2 separate regions of the Homo sapiens genome follow, and region 1 is linked to region 2. Evidence: fine-mapped expression QTL. Tissue or cell type: whole blood. Region 2 holds a variant in brackets; the other region holds the start of a gene. All regions are shown on one strand. Distances are between the middles of the regions.

Region 1 (5,580 bases), 80 kb before region 2:
TGTTTTTACCCCGTGGTTCTTAATTTTCTATTAGGACACAGGTCCATTTTGGATATTTGACTATGTACTATCTCCCTTAAAATGCAGCCACTCTAATGTTTAAATACAATTTTAGGGACTTCACGGCCCCTTGAAGAAGATCACGGACCCAGTTGTTTAATGGCTGAACAAAGCACAGAATGCATAGACAACTTCCACTGAAGCAATAATAAAGCTTATATGTATAACTTTCAGACCAATTAAGTGTTGCTTATTTTGGTTACATCGTCGTTGCTATCATAACGAGTTTACTTTTTACCACTGTACATAATAGGGTACCTGAAATGATCACTCTTAAAGAAAAAATATGTATAGCAATTTTAGGAAAAGCAACAGACCACTTCTACACTCTGAACCAAGATAAAAAAAAATTATATCAAGTGCTTCTATGCTTACCCATATGTAACAGGAAAGTTTGACGTTTGTACAAAGACAGTTCTAGTAAGTGGTAGAGATGTATGAAATCAAATCAATTCATTAAATAGGCATTTAGTGAAATTACCATAGGAGAACTGATCCTAAAACATCACTATTGATATGTTATAAATGAAGTTCAAATGAAAGAAAAAAAAATCTGTCCTATTTAAAACTCAGCACTGTTTCCATAGGTTCCAAATCAAGATGCCTTCAACCAGTCATCGTTAAGTGAGCCATACAATCTTCTGGCTTACTTCAGAAGATGTAAACTGTTTATCGAGTGCAAAATGAAAGAATAACCATGTGAAAATCAGTGAGCAGAGAAAGACGCACGAAATCCATAGCCTGAAATCACATGACCACATTGCAACGCAGCCCCTCACACCATTGTCACTGTCAGGCAGCTCAGGCGACAGGGTGCAGACAGGCGCGGAGACCGCGGTGGCCCCCTGCTCACGCTTTCTCCAAGAGCCGCAGTCCTAACGAAAACAGAAATGGGACTGCTAAGCAGTAAATCATTTGTCTCTCTCGCACACACGCGCACACCTCGTGGAGCCGCTGGGCAGTTAGCCGGCTGCCTTCTCTGGGCAGCCCAGCGATCGCAGCTTTTGCTGTGGAGGAGGACGCGCCTCTTACCCACGCCGCAGCCGGCCGGGTGAAGTTGCCCTGAAGCCCGCCACCGCCTCCAGCCCTGCTGCCTCCGGGGTCCAGGCATCCCCCAGCTGCGCCCGCTCGCTTGCCTGCCGGCGCGCCGGAGGCCGCAGCGCTGCACGCGGCTGATGGGCTCTGGGGCCCAGGCGCCCTGGCCGTGGGAGACCAGCGGCCCCGGCGCGCCCCGCGCGTTCTCACGGCCCGGCCCCGCGAGCTCAGCAGCCGGCGCGGCGCTGCTCGGCGCCCACCCCCGTCTGTGCTCCTCCCTCGGGCGCCGCGGGTCCCCCGGGCCCTGGGCCGGCCCCTCGGGCGTCCTCTCCTTTCCTCTCGCTCCTCCCCAGCGTGGGAACCCGATGCTGGCTTCCCAGGGCTGGGCAACTGGGAGCGTACCGAAGGTTTCTCAGGAGAGGAAGGAGACCCAGCCCAAGCGGGGGTCCCGGAAGAGGGACCGCCTGTCTGAAGAACCCCGACCCGCGTGGGGATGCAGCGACCACTTACTTGGTGGCTTCGCACACCTCGGGGCTGTGCTTCCGGATCTCTAGCAGCTCCAGGGCGCGCCTCGCAAATCCGCACTGCGAATGGAGAAAGAGAGCAGGCGTCAGGGGTGGCAGGCAGTGAGCGGGAGAGGGGACCCTGCAGTGGCACCTGTCGGTCCCCGCGCGAGTGCACCCTGGGCACTCGCGGCAGCGGCACTTACGCTTGGGTCGCTCATGTCTACCTGTTCAACAGGCTAGGCGGGACGCGGCGTGCCTCGGAAACTGTATCGCCCGCGTGGCTCCCAGACAGTCCTCCTTGCCTTTGTCTCTCTGTGTCTGTGTCTCCCTCTTTGATCACCCCAAAGGAACCCTTGCAGTTCCTTTCCATAAGGCATTCGATTTTTTCAGACCTCTGCCCGCCTCCTCCCCTTCTCCGCACCGAAAGACTGAAAAAGAAAGTAGCAGCCAAAACGCACCATGGTGAGATCACGCCCGGCTGGGGTCTCTAAGCTCCTCCAGGCGCTCCCTCCCCCACAGGTGTCCTCCGCCTGGGTCTGTTCCAGGCTGCTCGCTGCTCTAGCGCAGGAAAAGTGTAGGAAAACTCTGCACTGAAACCTGCTTCTGGAAAACTGACTCTGAGCTGAGTCCCACCCACTAGGCTCAGACTAGGGCAGGGGAACTGAGTCCTGGTCTCTGCAGCCGCCCAATCGCCATAACAGAAATCACTGTGTGGAGACAGAGACCTAGGGGCAGGGGACAAAAAAAAAAAAAGAGAGAGAGAGAGAGAAAGAAAAAAATTGGAGGGGACTCCAGGAAAATTTGGCACACTTAAAAAGAAAAACAAAAACATGTCTTCTCCACTATGCACTGGTGTGGAAAAACTGTAGTTTTCCACAGTTAAAAACTCCAACATTTCTGCTGGGGAAGTTGACATCTGCGCTGATGACTCTCTTGTCCTGGTTTTCAGATTTGAAGCCAATCTACTCATTTGCAGATGCAGTTTTATGGTTACAGAGATTTTACATCTTTTCAGTAAGGTCTGGCTTCTGCCTGGTTCAGTGCATTTAGTTATATTTGTTACCGTTGTGTGTGTTGTGATATTATGCTTTTAGTCACCTTTCTGACTTAAAAAAATCCCATCATGCTGTTCCATTGTGAATTAACAATTAATCATGATCTTTATGTGATCCATTTTCAATTCAGTTCAATTCATGGTTATCTTCCTCTTTTATATCTCCCCCAAGTACACCATCTAATCTGGTCCCATTTGTAAGCTCATCACATTTGCAAACTTTCTCCCAGTCTTGCCTACTGTGCTTGCCTCATAGTGAACATTAATCAGAATCAGGAAAAAAATACATTTAAATAAGTCAGGAACAGTTAAGAAAGTCAGCAATATAAGCACAGGTAGTCACAGAAACTTTTGCCTTCCTGCCATCTCAGAAACTTCTCTTCCTCTACATTTAACCCATGATACTCTCTTAGATCAGTAGGACATTTGTACTAAGAATATTTAGAACTTCAGATGTAGAAGGAAACTTAAAAAATACACAGTAATTCATTAGTAAAAAGAAGAGGGAAGTCATACTATTTTTAAGTAAATGCTATGAACATTCAGAAGAAAATGAGATATTGTCTGACAGGGTTCATAAAGGAACAGTACTAGAGATAGGACTTGAAGGATTGGTTATGTTTGGAAAAAGATAAAATAGAGGACTTTTTTGTTGTTTTTGCTTTTCTCTGACAGAGGGAAACTTGTGAGCAAACATACAGAGGTTGGAAAGGCATGACACTGTTATTCAAGAAACAAGGAGTAATACCATCTGGTAGAAATAAAAAGTACATAAAGAAAAGTGTAGGAAGATACGGTGGAAAGATAGGCCGGGTTCAGATGCCTGATCCGCAGTTGTCACGTGTTGCAGGCTTGTATAAAGACTTTGTTGTTGCTGTTGTCCTCGTCTGTTGATACCATTACCAATATTCCTTTCATTCTGGAAAATGACTTGTTTAACCCATTAATTTCTACTTTTACCATTCTCAAGTTTTATGGCACACCAAACTCCTTGATTAGTATTGCATTTGACCCCAGTACATTCTGCCAGGAGCTACCGAGTTTTACTAAGAGTAGACTCTCAACTGGATAGTGTCTTGTCTTCTTCCTCCTCTATCCTTTCTGACTGTCAGACAATGGGTAAGAAGAGGAAGCAACCAATCTAAACATAAGGGTGGCTAGAACCACCAAAAGGTGACTGCAAAAGACATTCTGTAATCTGGATGTTTGATATGCTCTAAAAAAGTAACAAGAGTTCCTTGTTGTTAGGGAAATACTAATCTTCACAGCCTAATTTCCTAGTAATGAAAATGGTTCATAACGGGATTCACTAAAATGCCTGCTGAGTGGATAAATGAATACCTGAATATTTCATCATCTTCCAGGTCCAATCTTCTTTCTTATAGTTGACTTATGGGTTAAAACCTACTTTCCTCCACTTTATGGAGAATAAGAAAGTTGTCATGACAACTTAATAAAAATGTTAACAAGGAAAATTACTCAGTGTAAAGCAATCTCCTTAGCCATGTTGATGCTGGCAGAAAAGCTCAAGAAATTTTTATTTCCTCTCAAGATGCTTTGTTTTTCTTGTACCTACAACCCACAATTGACAACAGCATGAAAGCATTTAAATGTACATTACTTTCACACTTGCAAATGAAAGGACAATGGCAACTAGAGATAGTATCTAAATCCTTGCTACTCAGAGTATGGTTTCTATATTAGCAGTATCCCATAACCTACAATCTTGTTGGAAATACAGAAGTTCAGGCCCCTCTCTAAACCAACTGAATCAGACTATCCATTAAACAGAATCCTCAAGTGATTCCTATGCACATTAAAGTTTGAAAAGCACTGGTCTACTATCAAGGCATTAAGTATGATAAGCCTCAAAACACATCGTATGAATCTTTCTAAATTCAGGGATTTTTAGAACCTGCATCTTTATTTTTCTGGGTTACTATTGCCATGTCAGTTCAAATAAAGTAATGGGACTAATGGTTTCATCTCTACTGACTTTGTGGACCATAAAAAATCCATAAACCAAGGGGAATTAAGAACGAGATAGAGAACAGTAAAAGGGTAGAAATGAGAGAAGTGTTACATATATGTCAGGGTCAGAGCTTTGTTTTATTTTTAGCAAACGAACAAACTATGGATTGTATGGTTTACCAAATTAGGATAACCTCTCAAATATAAGAAAAATAAGATAAACTTCTGGCTCCTTATTTCCTCCTTTTCTTAGTATTATTCATTTTCAATTTGTTTTAATGTACCTGGTTAAAGTTTACACTGGTAACTTGCAGTAAGATGATGCAAAGACTCCAAAATGTCTCTTTTGTATGAATGTAAAGCTTTAGTTAGAAAAACTAGATCTTATTAGGTTGGCGTCCACGCATTTCTAGTCCTGGTATAGACATTCACAAAGCAGCCTGGACTGGAAGAGATTCTGATGGTAACAGAAATGCTGTCCACTATATTTTTGCCAAGGAGTTGGTGTTTGTGAGCAGTAAATACAGTGGTAGGTAGAATAATGGCACTCCAAAGATGTCTACCTGCTAATCCTTAGAACCTGTGAATATGCAATTTTACATGGCAAGAGAGAAGTAAGGATGCAGATAGAATTAGGGTTACTAATCAGCTAGTCTTGAGATGGGAATATTATTCCAGATTAGGTGGGTGAACCAAATGCAATCAAAAGGGTCCTTGTAAAAGAAAGATTAAAGCAATAGAGTCAGTCAGAGTCGGAGTGATGCTATGTTAGAAAGAATTGATAAGCAATTGCTGGCTTTGAAAATAGAAAGGGGGCTGGGTGCAGTGGCTGACACCTGTAATCCCAGCACTTTGGGAGGCGGATGCGGGTGGATCACTTGAGGTCAGGAGTTCGAGACCAGCCTGACCAATATGGTGAAACCCTGTCTCTACTAAAAATACAAAAAATTAGCT
Region 2 (6,283 bases):
ATTGACTGCTTCATTTGGAACTTAGGTTTCAAAAGAAAACTTATTTTGGGGGAAACTAAGCCTGAGAAGATTAATTTATTGCCAATTTAAATGCCATTTTTGTGTCATTAGCCTACTAAAGGGTAGCACATCAGATTCGCAAACAAATATTTTTTCAGCCCCTACCAATGTCAGATGCTTTCATAAATGAGTTATTAAAGTTAAACATGTACAGATGTTTATTAAATAATTGTTAAATATGTCAATAACTTGGATTGAATATGCCATTATAACCCTCTTTGAATGAGGAAATGAGGCGAAAATTGTTTAACGGCTGGGTTTCTTGATAAAAAGGAATATTGCTTGTAACAACTTGTATTGCCAATAATTATCACAATGGATGATATGTAACAAATAATAAATATGTAATGCATAAATGGGTGTAGCCTGAATCCATATAGTCAGTAAGAGGTAGAACCCTAGATGTGAAAGACAATTTCTGACTTCAAGACCAGCATTTTTTTTTCCTAGGGTAAAGGAAAGCTTTCTTGCACAGGATAAAGGAAAGCATACTGCAAATATCATTCTAAACAAAAATATTCCCTCTTTCAAATGTTTGTTACAAAAATAGTAGTAGCCAGGTGAGTGACAATAAGAGAGGATTTAACAGCTTAAAAAAGGGGAATGTACTTAAGAATGTTTCAGATTAGTGCTCGATTTAAGTCAGAGACATCTTTGTAGACAATCACATAACAAGGATGAAGAAGATTCTAGAAATAAAGTGCAAAGCTTATTCTTAAGGAAAATAGTTGCTGGAAAACATGAGAGCCGCTGGCTTATTTGATATAGCACCATTAGCCAATAGTCTGTATAATTAGTCAATATTCTTTACAATATTCTGTACAATTAGAATGATTCTGCTATGTTGTAAGTTACAGGGATCTGATATAGTACATTTATGGGATGTGCAGTTAGAACTGAAATGGGGTTGGAGGATGTTAAAGTAAGATACTTATCCCAAATACTTTACCGGGGAAAAAAAGTGAATCCAGGGAGAACTTCATATATACGTTCTTCAGAAATTATTTATAATGTTGAATTTACTGGGGGTTCTTTCAGTTCACACTGGATTCCCATAAGCTGGAAGAATAAGCCATTAGCTTTCTTTCCTCAGAATTTGCTTAGTAAGCTCTTTCCTTTTTTTCAGCTTACATAGCTAATGTCCACACCTCTTTCAAGTCTATGCTTAAAACTCTCTCAGTGTGGGTGACCATCTTCAAATTTTAGAATTTATTTGATCTCCCAAATTGTGCTTCCATAGGACTCCTTTTTCATTACATTCATAATTATTAATTTAATGTATATTTTCCTTGGTAGCATAAAATCTATATCTAATGTATATGTTCTCTGTTAGTGCAACATCTATATCTCCAGTGAATAGGACACTGCCTGGAACAGATAGCTGCTTAGTAAATACTTAATGAATAAAAAAACTTCTAATGAGAGGGCTGTGAAAGTTTGGATGATGCGTTCACTTAGGTTGACTGAGAAGCAGACACCAAAATGGAATTAGGTGTATAAGAGATTTATTGGTGAAGGGAGCAAGAGAAGGCACAGAGAACCTTCAAATTGTGACATGAGTCTGACCTCTGTGGAAGGAGAGAGGGAAGGAAGGAGTATTGGGTAGAAAGAATGGCGACTGTAGCGCAGGCACAAAGGATGTTTAACCAGGCCAATGGGAAGCCTTCGAAGTAAAGATGCCCATTGGAAGAGTGTCATGTCTTACCAGAATGGGTCTGCCTGAGAAATCCTGCTATACTTAGTCATTGGTTAGGAGCAACCACAATGGCCAATGTAGAGAGACAGCAGCAGTGGCCATCAATCAAGCATGCTTCCTGCAAGAGATGAGAGCAGCACATTTTGATGGCTGCCATGCATGGAAACACTGAGGGAGATTTCCTACCAAACTGTCTTTTGGAAGGCTTGTTTACACAAAATTTCTAAAAATACATGTGATTATAGTCATGTTAGTTTAAAAATTGTTTTCTAAGTTAACACATTGATTGTTATGTCTTATTTGGCATAGGTATCGCTGATCTAGTGGTGATAAAGTTTTGCTTCCTGTGTTTGTTTTTCTAAAATCAAAATAAATTATTAAACTTTTGCTAGAAAATGTGAAAACGAAGGGTAACATACTGCTTATAAATGGCAGTGATGGCATCTTTTCCAGAACTGAACTGCACACTACTTACTTAAGCTACATCAGTGGAACAGGCATTTCTTCTCTCATTAGTAATCTGTGATGCACAGTTGATAGCTTACCATAAAAGACTAGTTAGGGTGTAAACACCTGCACAATGTCTTTAATGTTCATAACCAGGCAGTATGCCTCTGAAATCCAGAATATCCTTCATTCTCAAGGCCTATTGCTGTTGCATTTCAACAAGCAAGGCCATTTGAATCAGGAGGATATATTGCCTGTGTTACCAGATTTATTTAGCAAGCAAGTGGAAGATGATTTGACTGATGCAACCTTCTCCAGGGACAGAAAGCAAAAACATGAATACACTGTTGTTAAGATATTGCAAAGACCTGTGGGCTATAGGCTGACAATGCTTTATGTCAAGATCATTGGTTTTCTCCACAAAAAAAGTCTTAAACCTTGGAAGTTAGGAGTGGGATTTAGGAAATTCTCTATCATGTCCGGCCTGTGTTAATTAGGATCAAATTATGTGGGCCTCTGTAGCCTGGGATAAACTCAAAGCCTGGGTTCA[A/G]TGAAGATATCCCGACTCACTGTTATGTGGCTTGAAATTACCATGGACTTCGTTTTTGTTGTTGTACTTGGATAACTGACATTTAAGTAGTCAGCTTCCTCCAGAAGCTTCTAAGGCATCCTAGTATTTATTCAAGATATGAAAAAATTATGCCTACAATGGCTGGTGCCTATAAAATCTTGCAAAAGCACTGACTTTGAATATTTGATTTTTTTCTTCCTTTAGAAAGATAACATTTATAAAAAGGGTATATGAATAGATAGGATTACCAAAGATAAGGTAAATAAAAGCATAATTCCTAACACCATGAAAGAATATTTTCAAGTTATTACAAAGTTTAAAAACTGAGGTTTAAACAAGAAAGACACAAGGTATGATATCTTTATGAGTGAGACCAATAGCTCTCTGGTGGCCTAAATATTTGCCTTCCTAGTCAGTGACTGGATTTCCATGACTGTTACCCATCTTTTTAAACTAAGCACATATTTATTGCAAGCCAACTATGTGCTAAGCACTATTGAAGGAGCTAGAGATATAGCCAGGAAAATAAGTCCCTGCCTTCTTGAAACTTATTTTATAGCTAGAGAAAAGGGTTAATCAAACATATAAGTAAATATATCATATGCCAATAATTATTAAGAGCTGTGGGAAAAAATAAAGCACAGTAAGGGACCAGGTAGTGGGGAAGAGGGAGAGGGGCAGCATGGATACTGCTTCCTCTTTCCTAAAGAATTGTCATGGAAGGGCTCAGTGATAAGGTGACATTTCAGCAGATAACTTCATGAAATGAGGGAGTAAGATACACATATATCTGAGAGAAAAGCATTACAGGAAGAGGAAACATCAAAGGCAAAAGCCCTCAGGTAGGGGCTTGACTGAGAAGTCAAGGAACATTGAGAAGGCCAATGTGGCCAAAGGGAAGTGAACAAGGGGAATAGTGGTAGAAGACATTGTGTGATAAAAGAGATGCATGTGATTTATTGAATAAAACATCCCTAGGTATTCCCTGGTTTTATTGAACTTGTAGGTCAGGGTGAGAAATCTGTCCATGATATTTTGGAAGAATTTGAAGCATGACCTGCATGGCAAACTAGGAAGGCAAAGATTTAGAAACCAGTGAAGGAAAACAAGATCTGACTGTATCGCCTGAAAAAAAGCCATTCTTAGGTCTCATTTGAGGTGCTTCCATTTACTTGAGGTGTGACTGAGGGATATCTTCTAATTCATTTGGTGCTGCCTACGCTGTTCACTATTTGAATCCTCATTGCAAAGCTCCACCTTGTCTCTTGAAAGTTTTAAGGGCAATTGCATAACTTATCAACCAAACTAGAAGAGTATAATAGGGTGCAAGTAAAATTATGACAGAATAACACAAAAATCTGGACCGTTGCAGGGAAACTCACATGTGTGGTCATTCCACTTAAATCTAGGAACTCAGCATCTTTGTAGCCAGCGCTGGCTACTGGATGCTGGTGAAGCTGGAAACACTGAGCTGAGTGTTGAGGCTTGTGAGATGCACCGCTCAGTCATTCCTCCAGGTTTTGCTAATCCACCAGGGTGCTGCAAGGGAGCTGGACATAGATCTACAATACCAAAAGTCCCATGGACCTAGTCTCCATCCAGACATAAGGAACCTCATCATTACTCTCCAAGTTTGAGCCTTCCCATATTCAAAGTACATGTGGATTCTCTTGTCCTTACTTGTAAAATATCCTCAAGAGTTCAGGCTTTAAGAATATAAAAGGTAGGTAGAAACAGAAAATGTTTTTTAGGTACATTTAACTGTTATCTACACAATAAAATTTAGCTCTTTTGTGAGAGTGGCAAATAATTCCTTTCTTCTCCTCATTATTTCAGAATTATTTGAGAGGTAGACAGAGATTACCAAGAGAGAGATCATTAGGCCAGCTGTATTACTGATAAAGCTGATTGGAGAGGTGGTTTTAGATGTGTGGCCAAATGCACTAGTAAATACTTTACATCTTGACAATTAGACCTATTCATCCACTTAGTAACCAGCATACTGGACAACTTCAGGTCTCCTCAGAAGGGACAGAGCCCCCTGAGAGAAGGTCAGAACATGAATGGGTAGAGGATGTGACAGGCTGGTTTCAAAAGACAGAGTCTAGAAGGGGCTCCAATCCTACCCCACGGAGAAATTACTTTTTCTTCTATTGTGAGTGCTGTGGTCTCAATGTATGTGCTCCTCCAAAATTCATATGTTGGAATTTAGACCCTGAAGTGATGGTATGAAGAGGTGGGGCTTTTGGGGAAGTGATTTAACAATGAGGGCTTTGCCCTCATGAATTGATGAGTACTTTCTAAAAGTAGTCAAAGGGAGTGTGCTTGTCCCTTTTTAGCCCCTTCCACCATGAGAGGATACAGTAAGGGAGAGGAGCCCTTGCCAGACACTGAATCTGCTAATTCCCTCTTGGACTTCTCAGTCTCTGTAACTGTGAGAAGATTCATTTCTGTTTTGTTATAAATTATCCAAAGTATTTTGGTTTAGCAGCACAAATGAACTAAGAGAATGAGCTTCAAGGCAAAAGGAGCTTTCCCATAGGAGCTTTCATCTCTAATTTTTCAGCAGCAAAAACAAATACACAAAAAACCAACAAGTTAATATTTCAGTGCATAATTTTGCCTAAACCATGGGCTTTCTGAGTACAAACCTTTAAAAAAGAAGATAACTCTCTTGTCCTAATGTTTAGTTAGTTCATAGTAGGTTTTTATTTTCATTATCATTATCATTATCATTATCATTATCATTATCATTATCATTATTTGAGACAGAGTCTCCCTCTGTTACCTAAGCTGGAGTGCAGTGGTGCGATCTCGGCTCACTGCAACCTCTGCCTCCCGGATTCAAGCGATTCTCCTGCCTCAGCCTCCGAGGTAGCTGGGACTACAGACCCATGCCACCACGCCCGGCTAATTTTTGTATTTTTGGTAGAGACGATGTTTTGCCATGTTGGCCAGGCTGGTCTCGAACTTCTGACCTCATGTGATCCACCCCGCCTTGGCCTCCCAAAGTGCTGGGATTACAAGCGTGAGCCCTCAGCCCAGCCAAGTTTTCAATATATATTAGTTATGCATGCCTGCATGAACAAATGAATCATGACTTTTTCATTTTATTTCCCTAAACAGAAACTTTCAGTTGACTTAATTGAATTTATAAGTTATTTCTTATCCTAGAATCCAGCACGTTTTTATCTTGTCCTAAGAAAACTTACCACATTATCTTCTACACTTGCCAATATAATCTTTCCATTCCTGTCCAATGGATCTAGTGAAAATTAGTTGTGCCATGCTCACTTTCATTTTATGATTGTTTAGATTGTATTACTTTTTTCCCTGTTGTAATCCTCTACATCATTCTTCAATCTCGTGTTGAAACTACATATTTTTTCTCATAAATTGCTTATTAAGGAAGCCAAAGTTTTCTCTTCTCCTCAGACTACTATAACTTATACTGATTCATGCAACTCAATTGTTACTTTTCAAATATTTCCTTGTTTGGCTGCCATATA

The links. PIP is the estimated chance that this variant, and not a neighbour inherited with it, causes the effect.
Region 1: GUCY1A1 starts here. The variant in region 2 is fine-mapped to the expression of GUCY1A1 in whole blood (INTERVAL, PIP above 0.99).

Annotation. Positions count from the first base shown.
Region 1 is chr4:155,663,445-155,669,024 of GRCh38, reverse strand. GUCY1A1 (guanylate cyclase 1 soluble subunit alpha 1) reads right to left here and starts at 2,177. Exons shown (of 10, transcript NM_001130682.3): 1 at 2,060-2,177; 2 at 1,606-1,679.
Region 2 is chr4:155,583,516-155,589,798 of GRCh38, reverse strand. No RefSeq gene overlaps it. Among named protein-coding and RNA genes, the nearest start is that of GUCY1A1, 80 kb to the left of the region's middle. The variant A/G (reference allele first, on the strand shown) is at 2,754.